Homo sapiens: one gene and its partner. The protein of the gene in region 1 interacts with the protein of each later gene in a pairwise test. Each region holds a gene or a part of one and is shown on either strand. Other genes may lie near its edges.

Evidence for each region. Proteins that work in one complex are often made in the same cells at the same time.
Region 2: the proteins of SUPT20H (region 1) and ATG9A interact in binary tests that used the Homo sapiens proteins (3 or more experiments, as listed by UniProt).

Annotation. Positions count from the first base shown.
Region 1 is NC_000013.11:37,049,613-37,056,699, forward strand, and holds part of SUPT20H (transcription factor SPT20 homolog), read right to left. Parts: intron 1,972-7,087; 5' UTR 1,879-1,971; coding exon 1,876-1,878; intron 1-1,875. UniProt on the Homo sapiens protein: Required for MAP kinase p38 (MAPK11, MAPK12, MAPK13 and/or MAPK14) activation during gastrulation.
Region 2 is NC_000002.12:219,226,637-219,234,424, reverse strand, and holds the start of ATG9A (autophagy-related protein 9A), read left to right. Parts: upstream 1-4,788; 5' UTR 4,789-4,890; intron 4,891-5,939; 5' UTR 5,940-5,991; intron 5,992-6,371; 5' UTR 6,372-6,400; coding exon 6,401-6,503; intron 6,504-6,611; coding exon 6,612-6,655; intron 6,656-7,491; coding exon 7,492-7,556; intron 7,557-7,788. Other genes in the region: tRNA endonuclease ANKZF1, read right to left, coding at 137-292, 482-710, 992-1,139, 1,234-1,346, 1,742-1,935, 2,063-2,165, 2,385-2,497, 4,020-4,167. UniProt on the Homo sapiens protein: Phospholipid scramblase involved in autophagy by mediating autophagosomal membrane expansion. Cycles between the preautophagosomal structure/phagophore assembly site (PAS) and the cytoplasmic vesicle pool and supplies membrane for the growing autophagosome.

The sequences.
Region 1 (7,087 bases):
CCTGTAGTCCCAGCTACTCAGGAGGCTGAGGAAGGAGAATCACTTGAACCCGGGAGGCAGAGGTTGCAGTGAGCCCAGATCGTGCTATTGTACTACAGTCTGGGCAAAAAGGGCAAAACTCCATCTCAAAAAAAACAAAAACAACAAACAAATAAAACAAAACCCAAATATACCACCAGTGGTTTTCTTTCTAGTTTTCTGTTTTATAGTCTTTTTCATTCATAATGATAGTCATTTTTAAATTTTATTAAGAGGCACAGAACTTTCAGTTTTTATTTAAAAGGACTTAAATTCTTCTGTCTTATTTTGCAGATTCCAATACCTCAACCTACCAAATTGCATGTGGGTAAAAACTCCTACCACCCACCAAAGTCCCAGGAGGGTAAGGGGGAAAAACAAATACTGCCACCCTTTGGAAATCATGGGAACTTTTAAGTGACCACCTAGTCCTAAGGATGGAGAATTTGTATAATTCCAAAAATAGTGGGCCTTCTTGCACTGTTCAATAAAAAACCCACATTATCAAATATCTAAATATGATAAGTGAACAAAGTCTGAAATCTGCCATCTTTTCAAAACGTTCAGTTATAATAAATCTACACTAATTTGCTTTGTTAAAAAATCTTGGCCAGGCACTGTGGCACATGCCTGTAATTCCAAAGCTTTGGGAGGCCAAGGTGGGAAATCAGGAGTTCAAGACCAGCCTGGACAATATAGTGAGATTCTGTCACTACCAAAAAAAAAAAAAAAAAAAAAAACTTATAAGAAGCGGATTCCCAATGAAACTGGTTCCCAGGATTCAAGTTAAGATTCCTGACTCCCATTTTCCCTGATCCCATGTTCCACCATGAAAACATAATTCTGTACATATACACTTCACAAATACAGAAGGTTCTTTTAAATTTTGCCCATAAAATTTGTTTGTATCAAAAAATTATAATAAACAAAATCAAATATATATAGTCTAGGACAATTTTAAACAGCCAGTCATCTCAAGTAAATATTTCATCTTCTGAAATTAAAACTTCAAAGGGTCTAGTGAGACATGCATACATACATAAATAAAAGCATCATTCATTCATTATCTCCTTCAAAAACTTAAGAGGAAAATGATTAGGTAATATAGATGCAAAATACAAGGTGTTGTCAGAACCCCACTGTGATACTTCTACTTTTCTCTAATAGGGGAGGAGTAGATAGGCAAGAACCAAGAGGAGAAGGAAGACAGATGTTTTCTGAAGTTTGTGACGCAGAATAGGGGTTATCTAAATAAATAACATGGTGGTCAATGTTCATTTATTCTCTGTCAAATGCTGCTGCTTCTTTAAAACATTAAAAAGTGTTTTTCTCCCTTAGTCTGTCATTTCTTAATGGCAAAAGTTAAATGCCTACTCCTAACTATGTTTAGTGACTGTAAGTCAGTGAACAGAAATGTGCCATTAGAAGATTAGCACTGATGCTGCCTGAAATACGTTATATGCAGTTAGCAGGTTACATTTGTTTTTAAATTTTAATAAAATCTAAAGAAAAGCTTTAAAATACGAGAAATCTATACTCCCCAAAACTATTTGTATTTATACCCATCCTCCTTGCCAACGATTTGGAATATGGCAAAGTAGATATAGGTAAATATTTTTAATACTTCATAAATACAAGCACAGATAGATGGATGAATGTGATCACTGTAACACTGATTAGTGAGCAATATACTTTATAGAGAAGACTTTGCAATGGGATTGCTAAGTAATTTCCCAGTTGGGATAACCTGTACAGCTTACAAGAGTATTTCTATATCTACCATACAAATATCTTTATGAAGATGAAGGAAGAGAACATTCTAAAACACAAATTTGAACATACTGAGCTGAAGCTTACCATTATGGCATAAAATAAGGGTCCAAAAGAAGAGATAACTTATGTACGCTGATGAAGTGGGGTGAACACCATGCCTTTAACATCAATCTTACAGTACTGAAAAGCAAAAACAATAAAACCCCAATATTAACATAAGGCTATTAAGAGAAAAAAAAAGAGATTACATATTTCATAATTAACAAGGAAAATTACTTATATTTTTAAGACATACATATTTTTAAGACACTTTTTAATAATGAGTAACAATAAAATTCATGTACCACAACCTATCCACTCACTGCTGAAAAGTAGTTTCAACTAGGAAAGGCAAAACACACTTGCCAAGTTACAATTATTACTCCTTTTCTCAAAAATACTTAACATCTCCAGAGAGAAAAAAAATACATTTTTTAAAATCTCTTCTCTATCACTACTGTTGCTATTCTCATTTTTCCTTTGAATTATTTTAATAGCTTGCCCACTGGGCTTGATCACTATCCAGTTCACTTTACAAATCACAGATATAATCATGTCTGCTGATAAAAAATCCTCTTATTAATAAGAGAGGACACAAACAAATAGAAAAAAAATCCATGCTCATGGATAGGAAGAATCAATATTGTGAAAATGGCCATATTGCCCTAAGTACTCGTAGATTCAATGCTATTACCATCAAGCTACCATTAACTTTCTTCACAAAACTAGGAAATACTACTTTAAATTTCATGTGGAACCAAAAAAGAGCCTGTATAGCCAAGACAATCCTAAGCAAAAAGAACAAAGCTGGAGGCATCATGCTGTCTGACTTCAAACTATACAATGCTACAGTAACCAAAACAGCATGCTACTGGTACCAAAACAGATATACAGACCAACAGAACAGAGGCCTCAGAAATAACACCACACATCTACAACCATCTAATCTTTGACAAACCTGACAAAAACAAGCAATGGGGAGAGGATTCCCTATCTAATAAATGGCCCTGGGAAGACTGGCTAGCCACATGCAGAAAACAGAAATTGGACCCCTTTCTTACACCTTAACAAAAATTAACTCAAGATGGAATAAAGACTTACAACATAAAACCATAAAACCATAAACCATAAAAACCCTAGAAGAAAACCTAGGCAATACCATTCAGGACATAGGCATGGGCAAAGACTTCATGACTAAAGCACCAAAAGCAATTGCAACAAAAGCCAAAATTGACAAATGGGATCTAATTAAACTAAAGAGCTTCTGCTCAGCAAAAGAAACTATCATCAGAGTGAACAGGCAACCTACAGAATGGGCGATAATTTTTTGCAATCTATCCTTCTGACAAAGGTCTAATACCCAGAATCTACAAAGAACTTAAATTTAGAAGAAAAAAACAACCCCATCAAAAAGTGGGTGAAGGATATGAACGGACACTTCTCAAAAGAAGACATTTATGCGGCCAACATATGAAAAAAAGCTCATTATCACTGGTCATTAGAGAAATGCAAATCAAAACCACAATGAAATACCATCTCACACCAGTTAGAATGGCAGTCATTAAAAAGTCTGGAAACAGATGTTGGTGAGGCTGCAGAGAAACAGGAACACTTTTACACTGTTGGTGGTAGTGTAAATTAGTTCAACCATTGTGGAAGACGGTGTGGCAATTCCTCAAGGATCTAGAACCAGAAATACTGTTTGACCCAGCAATCCCATTACTGGGTATATACCAAAGGATTATAAATCATTCTACTATAAAGACACATACACACGTAACGTATGTTTACTGGAGCACTATTTACAATAATGAAGACTTGGAACCAACCCAAATGCCCACCAATGATAGACTGGATAAAGAAAGGGTGGCACATATACACCATGGAATACTATGCAGCCATAAAAAAGAATGAATTCATGTCCTTTGCAGTGACATTAATGATTCTGGAAACCATCATCCTCAGCAAACTAACACAGGAACAGAAAACCACACATCACATGCTTTCACTCATAAGTGGGAGCTGAACAGTGAGACCACATGGACACAGGGAGGGGAACATCACACGCTGGGGCCTGTTGGGGGGTTGGGGGAAAGGGGATGGAGAGCATTAGGACAAATACCTAACACATGCGGGGCTTAAAACCTAGATGACGGGTTGATAGGTACAGCAAACCACCATGGCACATGTATACCTATGTAACAAACCTGTACATTCACCACATGTATTCCAGAACTTAAACTAAAATTAAAAAAAAAAAAGATACATTATCTAGCCTATTTGATACAAAAAACAAAAACAAAAACAAAACGAAACCTCACTCCTTGGGTACATATGTTTCTAATATTTGGTGGAAAGATTCATTCAAAAACTCAATGAATCCAGGAGCTGGTTTTTTGAAAGATCAACAAAATTGATAGACTGCTAGCAAGACTAATAAAGAAGAAAAGAGAGAAGAATCAAATAGACGCAATAAAAAATGATAAAGGGGATATAACCACCGATCCCACAGAAATACAAACTACCATCAGAGAATACTATAAACACCTCTACGCAAATAAACTTGAAAATCTAGAAGAAATGGATAAATTCCTCGACACATACACCCTCCCAAGACTAAACCAGGAAGAAGTTGAATCTCTGAATAGACCAATAACAGGCTGTGAAATTGAGGCAATAATTAATAGCTTACCAACCAAAAAAAGTCCAGGACCAGATGGATTCACAGCCGAATTCTACCAGAGGTACAAGGAGGAGGTGGTACCATTCCTTCTGAAACTATTCCAATCAATGGAAAAAGAGGGAATCCTCCCTAACTCATTTTATGAGGCCAGCATCATCCTGATACCAAAGCCTGGCAGAGACACAACAAAAAAAGAGAATTTTAGACCAATATCCCTGATGAACATCGATGCAAAAATCCTCAATAAAATAATGGCAAATCGAATCCAGCAGCACATCAAAAAGCTTATCCACCATGATCAAGTGGGCTTCATCCATGGGATGCAAGGCTGGTTCAACATACGCAAATCAATAAACGTAATCCAGCATATGAACAGAACCCATGACAAAAACCACGATTATCTCAATAGATGCAGAAAAGGCCTTTGACGAAATTCAACAACGCTTCATGCTAAAAACTCTCAATAAATTAGGTATTGATGGGACGTATCTCAAAATAATAAGAGCTATTTATGACAAACCCACAGCCAATATCATACTGAATGGGCAAAAACTGGAAGCATTCCCTTTGAAAACTGGCACAAGACAGGGATGACCTCTCTCACTACTCCTATTCAACATAGTGTTGGAAGTTCTGGCCAGGGCAATTAGGCAGGAGAAGGAAATAAAGGGTATTCAATTAGGAAAAGAGGAAGTCAAATTGTCCCTGTTTGCAGATGACATGATTGTATATCTAGAAAACCCCATTGTCTCAGACCAAAAACTCCTTAAGCTGATAGGCAACTTCAGCAAAGTCTCAGGATACAAAATCAATGTGCAAAAATCACAAGCATTCTTATACACCAATAACAGACAAACACAGAGCCAAATCATGAGTGAATTCCCATTCACAATTGCTTCAAAGAGAATAAAATACCTAGGAATACAACTTACAAGGGATGTGAAGGACCTCTTCAAGGAGAACTACAAACCACTGCTCAAGGAAATAAAAGAGGATACAAACAAATGGAAGAACATTCCATGCTTATGAGTAGGAAGAATCAATATCGTGAAAATCGCCATATTGCTCAAGGTAATTTATAGATTCAACGCCATCCCCATCAAGCTACCAATGACTTTCTTCACAGAATTGGAAAAAACTACTTTAAAGTTCATATGGAACCAAAAAAGAGCCCACATTGCCAAGTCAATCCTAAGCCAAAAGACAAAGCTGGAGGCATCACGCTACCTGACTTCAAACTATACTACAAGGCTACATTAACCAAAACAGCATGGTACTTGTACCAAAACAGAGATATAGACCAATGGAACAGAACAGAGCCCTCAGAAATAATGCCACATATCTACAACCATCTGATCTTTGACAAACCTGACCAAAACAAGCAATGGGGAAAGGATTCCCTATTTAATAAATGGTGCTGGGAAAACTGGCTAGCCATATGTAGAAAGCTGAAACTGGATCCCTTCCTTAGCCCTTACACAAAAATTAATTCAAGATGGATTAAAGACTTAAATGTTAGACCTAAAACCATAAAAACCCTAGAAGAAAACCTAGGCAATACCATTCAGGACATAGGCGAGGGCAAGGACTTCATGTCTAAAACACCAAAAGCAATAGCAACAAAAGCCAAAATTGACAAATGGGATCTAATTAAACTAAAGAGCTTCTGCACAGCAAAAGAAACTACCATCAGAGTGAACAGGCAACCTACAGAATGGGAGAAAATGTTTGCAATCTACTCATCTGACAAAGGGCTAATATCCAGAATCTACAATGAACTCAAACAAACTTCCAAGGAAAAAACAAACAACCCCATCAATCAGTGGGCGAAGGATATGAACAGACACTTCTGAAAAGAAGACATTTATACAGCCAAAAGACACATGAAAAAATGCTCATCACTGGCCATCAGAGAAATGCAAATCAAAACCACAATGAGATACCATCTCACACCAGTTAGAATAGCGATCATTAAAAAGTCAGGAAACAACAGGTGCTGGAGAGGATGTGGAGAAATAGGAACACTTTTACATTGTTGGTGGGACTGTAAACTAGCTCAACCATTGTGGAAGTCAGTGTGGCGATTCCTCAAGGATCTAGAAGTAGAAATACCATTTGACCCAGCCATCCCATTACTGGGTATATACCCAAAGGATTATAAAACATGTTGCTATAAAGACACATGCACACGTATGTTTATTGCAGCACTATTTACAGTAGCAAAGACTTGGAACCAACCCAAATGTCCAACAATGATAGACTGGATTAAGAAAATGTGGCACATATACACCATGGAATACTATGCAGCCATAAAAAATGATGAGTTCATGTCCTTTGCAGTGACATGGATGAAGCTGGAAACCATCATTCTCAGCAAACTATCGCAAGGACAAAAAACCAAACACTGCATGTTCTCACTCATAGGTGAGAATTGAGCAATGAGAACTCATGGACACAGGAAGGGGAACTTCACACACCAGGGCCTGTTTTGGGGTGGGAGGAGGGGGGAGGGATAGCATGAGGAGATATACCTAATGTTAAATGACAAGTTAATGGGTGCAGCACACCAACATG
Region 2 (7,788 bases), on another chromosome or scaffold:
TCTCAGTAATTGCTAAGATAGACACTGTGGGTGTGTGTTTAAATAAGGAAATGGGTCAGTTATGAGAGTAGGGAATTTGCCAGTGCATTTTTAGGACAGAAACTCAGATCTGACAGTTGCCAGATAGTAATCAAACCCTGTTTGGGAGATTCCTCATTCTGCCCCAGCGCTTCCTTTTCATCCCTGCAGATCTTTCTTATTTCTTCCTCAGTAGGCTTCTTTCTCTCCTCTCTTACTGTTTTCCAGTGTGTCTGAGGTGAGTGCAGTCTGACTGCTTCCCGAGGGTCTTCTTCTGCCATAAAAGAAAAGATCTTTCTCAACCTTAGCTGAGGAGAAGCTAGCGCAGGTTTCTCTCAATGCAGATGTAGCTGGGCTGCAGTCCAAGGCTTAGAAAATCCTCTGGATATACCAATGAGAATGGAGGCTTAGGTTGGAGAGAACAGGAAGGTCTAGGGAATTGGGATCTGGAGCAAAGGCTCACCATAGACATGCAAAGTGGTCAGCTTATGGAGCACACGCTGTAGCTCTTGGAAGGTGGGTCTGCGGGTGGCGAGGGGGATATCCCAAAGTCGGGGATCCCCCCTTTGCAGGGGTGCTCCCTTGCCTCCAAAGAACAAAGACCGGCCAGAGCGGGGAGCACGCAACAGTATTGTACCAGCCTCCTCCAGCGCCTTAGCCCAGCTTGGCCCTGCCAGCAGGTCACGAACATCCTAGAGAAGAGAGTAACTCAGTCCTGCATACCTTCACTTGCTATTTATAAATCTCCAACTAAAAAAAATGGCCCACAGAAGTGCAAGGGGTGGAAAGTAGAGGATAACACGGAGAAAGAATAGAGGACTAAGGCTCCTGGGGAATCCCTCATCTACCTTTGTCTACCTATAATGAAAATTGGAAGGATATGAGTCAAAAACCTCCCTACTTAACAGTGAGTTGAACAGAGATGCAAAAAAAGTATGGATCAGTACCACCAGATCTAAAAGGCTTAACTCACCTTATATAGTGTGGCTTCATTGTAGCGCCTCAGGTTGGCTCCAGCAGAGTGTGATGGCCCACCTCGGGCATCCCGAAGCCCCTGGGCTGTGCCCCGCTTGGCCCGAACCGTATAGCGGTGAAAAGTTTTGTGTGTCACCACTTCTCTTCTGTAGACAGCACAGACTCAGTACTGGAGACCAGCTGGTGCTCCCTGGCTAACAGGATCCACTCCATCCTTACCCCCATGCAGCACCCTCTCACCCTTGAAATATAGCACCAGCAAAGTGCCCAGCTGCAGCCATGAGCACCACGCAGTCTCTGGGACCTCTACTTTGCAGGTTCTGTAGCAGCAGTTCTGCCTCTTCTGGGGGATCCTTGATGACAGAGAAGCATCAGAAACATATCTGTTGCATTCACTGAGAGCAAGAAACTAAGGGCCAATTTTCACAAACATTATCTCATTTAATATTACCACCCTGAGGCTTGTTTCCATTTGACAAACAAGGAAATTTGAGGCTTGGCGAGGCAGTCAAGATGAAGTGGTAGAATCACAATTCAAACCTAAATTGGTTTGTTTCCAAACTTAATTCCATTACACTTAACCCTTCCACAATTCAGGCCAGTTTCAATTCAAGACTATGTTGTCAAGCGTGATACCCACAACCAACAGGAAGGAAGAGAAGCAGGGAGAAATGCACTAGGCTAAGGGAAATCTAGGCTGGGTGTACAAAAGGCTGGGGTTAGCCATGCAACCTGTACTGTCACTTGCCTGATGAGGGCCTAGGACACAGCGGTAGGCATAAAGAAACTGGCCCTGGGCATTCTGGAAAAGAACTCGATGAGGGTAAAAGCCTGGGGGTCGGCTCAACTTCTCAAATGTAGCCCTCTCCCGATCCAGTGTCTGCAAGTCCTCCTCACTGGCTGAGTCTGAGTCTTCTGATCCCGAGATGCTGGAAAGATCTCCTGAAGACAGACAATATGAGATACACAAGTTTGGTACCCCATTTTTGTTCTTTCCTCAAACTCTAAACTAGTGCTTTCTTATACCTCCATGTCCTACTCCTACATAGGTCCCCCTACCACTCATCACCTGTGGAGCTCTGCTTTTCAAAGTCCAGGGCAGACAGGAGAGGCTTGTCCTTGAGACGTTGCTTTAGGTTAAACCGATGCCAGTCAAGCTTATAATGTTCCCTCTAGTACAAAGACAAAGAGTGAGATAAAGGTGGAAATATGCCCCAGCCTGGCCTTGTACTGGCCAAGACCAGTTATAGTATTCTAGGAAGTACAACCAGGTAACACCAACTGCCTCAGTCAAAGCATGGACCTTTATTAAGACAAATCAAATGTCTACCTCTCCCCACCCACCATTACACTTTTGCTTCTAACATCTAGCTCTGCACCTGACCTATTACCTGTTCTTGGTGGTTCTGGAAGGTCTGGTCACAAGTTGAACAAAATAACTTCTCTGAAATATCCATAGGACCCTGGAGTAGCTTTCTTTCTGGGCTTTCTCTCTCCCCTGAGCCTAAATAAGGGAAGAGGAATTGGACATAGAAAGGGAGCCCAAATCCACAGTGACAAGAATTATATTCAGAGTGTGATATACAAAGCAGAGGAGGATACAAAAGAGATGGCATGATACTGCCTTCAAGGAATTTACACTCTAATAGTCATGAAATAAACAGTACAGCAATCACTTAATGCAATAAACATGCTTCTGAAAACATGTACGTAAAATGAATGTAAATAAAATAAAATTGGCCAGGTGCAGCGGCTCACGCTTGTAATCCCAGCACTTTGGGAGGCCAAGGCAGACGGATCATGAAGTCAGGAGATCAAGACCATCCTGGCTAACACGGTGAAACCCCGTCTCTACTAAAAATACAAAAAATTAACCGGGTGTGGTGGCGGATGCCTGTAGTCCCAGCTACTTGGGAGGCTGAGGCAGGAGAACGGCATGAACCGGGGAGGCGGAGCTTGCAGTGAGCCGAGATCACACCACTGCACTCCAGCCTGGGCAACAGAACGAGACTCTGTCTCAAAAAAGATGAAGAAAAATAAAATAAATAAAACGAATGTAAATAAAAACTGGCCCTGGGCATTCTGGAAAAGAATCCGATGAGGGTAAAAGCCTTGGGGTCGGTTAAACTTCTCCAACGTAGCCCTCTCCCGAGATCCAGCGTCTGCAAGTCCTCCCCACTGGCTGAGTTTGAGTCTTGTCTAATTTAAATTAGCCAAACAGATTGTTTAGGTGAATCCTAAAGAAAATAATTTCTGTTCAGTTTAAAATTATTTTTCACTGCACAAAAACTACTTCCCAAATGCTTTTTAAAGTTTACATTTCCAATTAGTGTACAGTTTGTCTAAGGAGAGGTGCAAGAAAAGATGTAGCCAAACTAAAGTTACACAAAACAGGACCGACACGGTGGCTCATGCCTGTAATCTCAGCACTTTGGGAGGCTGACCCAGGCGGATCACTTGAGGCCAGGAGTTTGAGACCAGCCTGGCCAACATGGTGAAACCCCGTCTCTACTAAAAATACAATAATTAGCCGGGCATGGTGGTGCGGGCCTGTAGTCCCAGCTACTCGGGAGGCTGAGGCAGGAGAATCACTTGAACCCGGGAGACGGAGATTGCAGTGGGTGGAGATCGTGCCACTGCACTTTAGCCTGGGCGACAGAGCGAGACTCTCAAAAAATAAAGCTATACGAAACAAATAATAAATTGTTTCATATTCAGCAAAAAGGAATAATTTGAGTGGGGCCTGGTTAAATGTGGAATACATCTGAGAATTTTATCTCTACAAAGTTTAAAGTGTTTTTGAAGGGAATGGTGTTAACGTGAGGAGATACATGCAATGGCAAAAAGACTTGTTTGAAAACAAGGGCTGTGCTGGACATTACCCAGAGATTAAGTGAATTTAATCAAGCAGAAAGATAAATCAATTGGCCTCCTAAGCTCGGGAATACCAATAAGAATGTGTTCCCTGAACGGGCAATACGCTGTAAGGAGCCCTGTCACGTTTCACACGAAACCTTCCAGGATACCTGAACAGGAAGTACGCGGAGCCCGGGCCAGAGCCTCCCCAGGCGCGTGGCTCACCAGGCTCAGGCCCTGAAAGACCGGAGCATCCGCGCTGAGGTCAAACAGGGAGATCGACGCAGGAGCCGGGGCTGCATCTGGAGCCGGCGACATGGCTGAGCAGAAATTATTTAGCAGCAGCTCCTGGAGTAGAAAGCGTGTAAGAAACAGGGCTCCTGCAAACGAGATCCTACTGCTGCGTCTCCTGCCTGCCTGACTTGGTTTCTCCTGCACCGCAAGACTTCTCGTCTCTCATCCTGCTACCAACTGTGAGATGAATACCTTGGCCCCCGTCCACTTTCTCAAACCCCCAGTCTCAGCCCACAAAAGAATGAAATAGGCATTCGGCTCCCAAATCGAGTCCAACAGAGTTAAAAATCACTGAGCTTGCCTAGCCGAACTTTCTTCGTTACCCATGCGACCAGCAACAACTGGCCCGCGTAAACTCGCCCACGCCCTTAGAAGACGCACCAAACGTCCCGGGAGCTGAGCGGCTCGCAAGTCCTCAGGTCGATTGCCGGATTTCTGCAACACAACAATCCCCGTCACTACGGAGCAGCGAAGAGGACAACCGGCGGCGTCCGCACCTGAGCCCCGCCCCACGTAGAGCACACTATTGGGCCGCTGACTGTCCAAGACCCGCCTCGAGACTTTAGTCCCGTCCCTGAAGCCGAGAATTGGCCGTTGTGTCTCCGCCCCCCGTGCTTATTGGCCAGCCTGGCTGCGGGTGACAGTGAGTGGCAGACACCCGGCCTAGCGCCGCGGGTCGCGCCGAGCCGAGCCGAGCCGAGCGGAGCCGGCGGAGCCTCTGGAATCACCCGGGTCGCTGTTCCTGAGGTAAGACGTGAGACCGGTTATTGGAATCCCAGGCCCCGTGTCTGGCCTTGCCCAGGGGTGCCTGCGGAGCCCTAAGTGAGCTCGCGGCGGGTAACGGAGGAAGGGGCGCCGCCGGCGGGGCGGGGGCGCGCAGCCGGAATGTTTTGATTGCTGGCGCGCGCAGACGGGGGCGCGCGCGGGCGCCGGGGCCGCGCGCGAGGTTGTCCGCTGTTGGGAGCTGCCAGCCCTTGGCCTGGGGCCGGGCGACCCTGGGGCGAGGTGGACTCCGGTCCACGGTCGCCGCGGCTGGGTGTGGGGAGGCAAGCCAACCCACCCGGGCTATCAGCTGTAAGGCTGACTCGATCCCTGCAACATCCGCAGGAACCCCTGAGCCCAGGCCCAGCCGGCCGGGGCTCCACGGGCCCTGGTCCACACTGACCCTGTGAGTGGTGACTTCCCTGAGGGGCAGGGCTCTCACTAGCCCAGGGAATCCCACCGGGGCCAGGCTGGGCCAAGATCCACGGCCCCCAGGGGCTGCACGGACAGGTGAGTACCACCTCGACCATGCCTGGCTTACAGGACCTAGGGAACCCACAAATTCACCTAGGATCGGGGGTCTACACTGACCCAGTCAAGGTTTCCCATCCAGAAGGTTTGCTCACCGGCTGGATCTTTGGTGCTAGGGAAGTAAGAGAAGGGGTTGACCAGAAAGGTCCTCTTCAGGAAAGACTCTTGAGGTTTTGTGGACCCTGAGAAGTATGTCATTTCTGAGGCTAAGGTAGGGCAATGGAGAAATAGTCCAGAGGCGCCCCTGGCCTCAGGTCTGTACCCACTCATTCTCCATGGGGTCCCTAAGTTACTTCTTGAGACCCTGGAGTTGGAAGAGTGGCCCGGTTTAGCACAGCCAGAGGAAGTGCTCGTAGTCCTGGGCTGGAAGGGTGCTTCTTCCCCACTGCAGCCTTCCTGCCCCATGCTTGGCCTCCTCTTGGTGGGGTGTGGATGGCTGGGAGGGTTGGGTTCCTTTTTATCCCCACTGCCCACTCTCTGGGGCCTGACATCTTCTCCTCCAGCAGCTGCAGAGCATCGAGGGCTGGAGAGGAGCACATACTGTCCATGGAGCTGGTAGGGCCATGTGCTTTTCTCAAACATTTGTTTGTGAAGTGCTTCCAAACTGTTAGTCTCTTGGGAGACCAGGGTTCCCAGGATGGGCGGGGGAGGGACTCTTCTGTCCGTTAAATAGAAGATGAAACAGCCCCCAACAAAGGGACAGATTCTGGCTTTGGGCCAGGAAAGCAGCAGTAGACACCCAGACTGGCCAGAGTTAAGGCTCCCCCAGCCCTGAGCTTACTGCCTTTCTTGTGTCACTACTCCTCTGCCTCTGAGCCAAGGAGGCTGGTAGTGGACAAAGCCCAAGGGTACTTTCTCCTTTTGGCAGTAGGCAGGGCAGCCCATGGGCAGCAGCTGGAACTGAATCAGGGTCTCTTCTTCCTCCTTATTGGCAGGTGGTCAAGGTGGACAGGGGGCGGTGGTGATGGCGCAGTTTGACACTGAATACCAGCGCCTAGAGGCCTCCTATAGTGATTCACCCCCAGGGGAGGAGGACCTGTTGGTGCACGTCGCCGAGGGGAGCAAGTGTGAGTTCTTGGATATGACAGCCATAGGGAGAGTTGATGGAAGAACATGGAGAGAGCAAGGGGCTTGTGTTCTCCCAGGGCTCTGACATCTCTGTTCCTATCCCACAGCACCTTGGCACCATATTGAAAACCTTGACCTCTTCTTCTCTCGAATATCCTTTGTGTTTCTGAGTTGGAGCTCTGGGACCTTTAATGTCTCTCTAAGCCGGGGCTCTGGTGGGAGGTGGGGGTAGGTTTGACTCTAATACCTGGAAACGGGAATGGAGCTCATCCTGAGGCTGAAAGAGGCTGGTGAAATCATCGTTAAGTAATGATAGCCCACATTTACCAAGATCTGTGTGCCTGTGTCCACTTTGTGGTGTTAATTTGTAGAAGCCTTTCTAAGGGTGAGCCTCCTTTTTTTTTTGTTTGAGATGGAGTCTGTCTCTGTTGCTGCTAGAGTCCAGGGGCGATCTCAACACACTGCAACCTCCACCTCCTGGGTTCAAGAGATTCTCCTGCCTCAGTCTCCCACGTAGCTGGGATTACAGGCACCTGCCACGATGCCCAGCTATTTTTTGTATTTTTCATAGAGACAGGGTTTCACCATGTGGCAAGGCTGGTCTCGAACTCCTGACCTCAAGTGATCCACCTGCCTTGCCCTCCCAAAGTGTTAGGATTACAGGCGTGAGCCACCACACCCAGCCGAGCCTCCTTTTTGATGGGATGTAAATAATCGTAATAAGTAACGTCTTTTGACTCATTCTGTGTCAGCTCTGTGTTAAATGCTTTACATGCATTATCTTAGACCTAATACTCCTATGAGACAAGTGTTATTTATTCCTAATGTACCACCATGGACAGACAAAAGTTTAGACAGGTTAAGTAACTTGGTAAAGTCACACAGCTAGAAAGTCACAGAGCCAGGACTTAAGCTTGAGTGTGTTGACACCAAAGTCTGTGCTCTTACCTGCTTTCTTTACTGACTACTTTTTCTTAACAATTACACGTTTATAATCTGCACCAGAAGAATGGCTTCACATGTATGCTCATCGGGGAGATCTTTGAGCTCATGTAAGTATAAGAAGGGACAGATGATGTGGTGAAAGAATACATCTTAGTCTTTCCTCTCCTTGCACTCACACTTGGCCCAACCTGCCAGTACAACTCAGTCCTAGGCTAAAACTCCGTAAACCTTTGTAGTTCAGGGACTGGGTGTGGCACCAAAACTTACAGCTTCACCTTTCTTTTTTTTTGAGATGGAGTGAGTCTCACTCTGTCGCCCAGGCAGGAGTGCAGTGGTCTT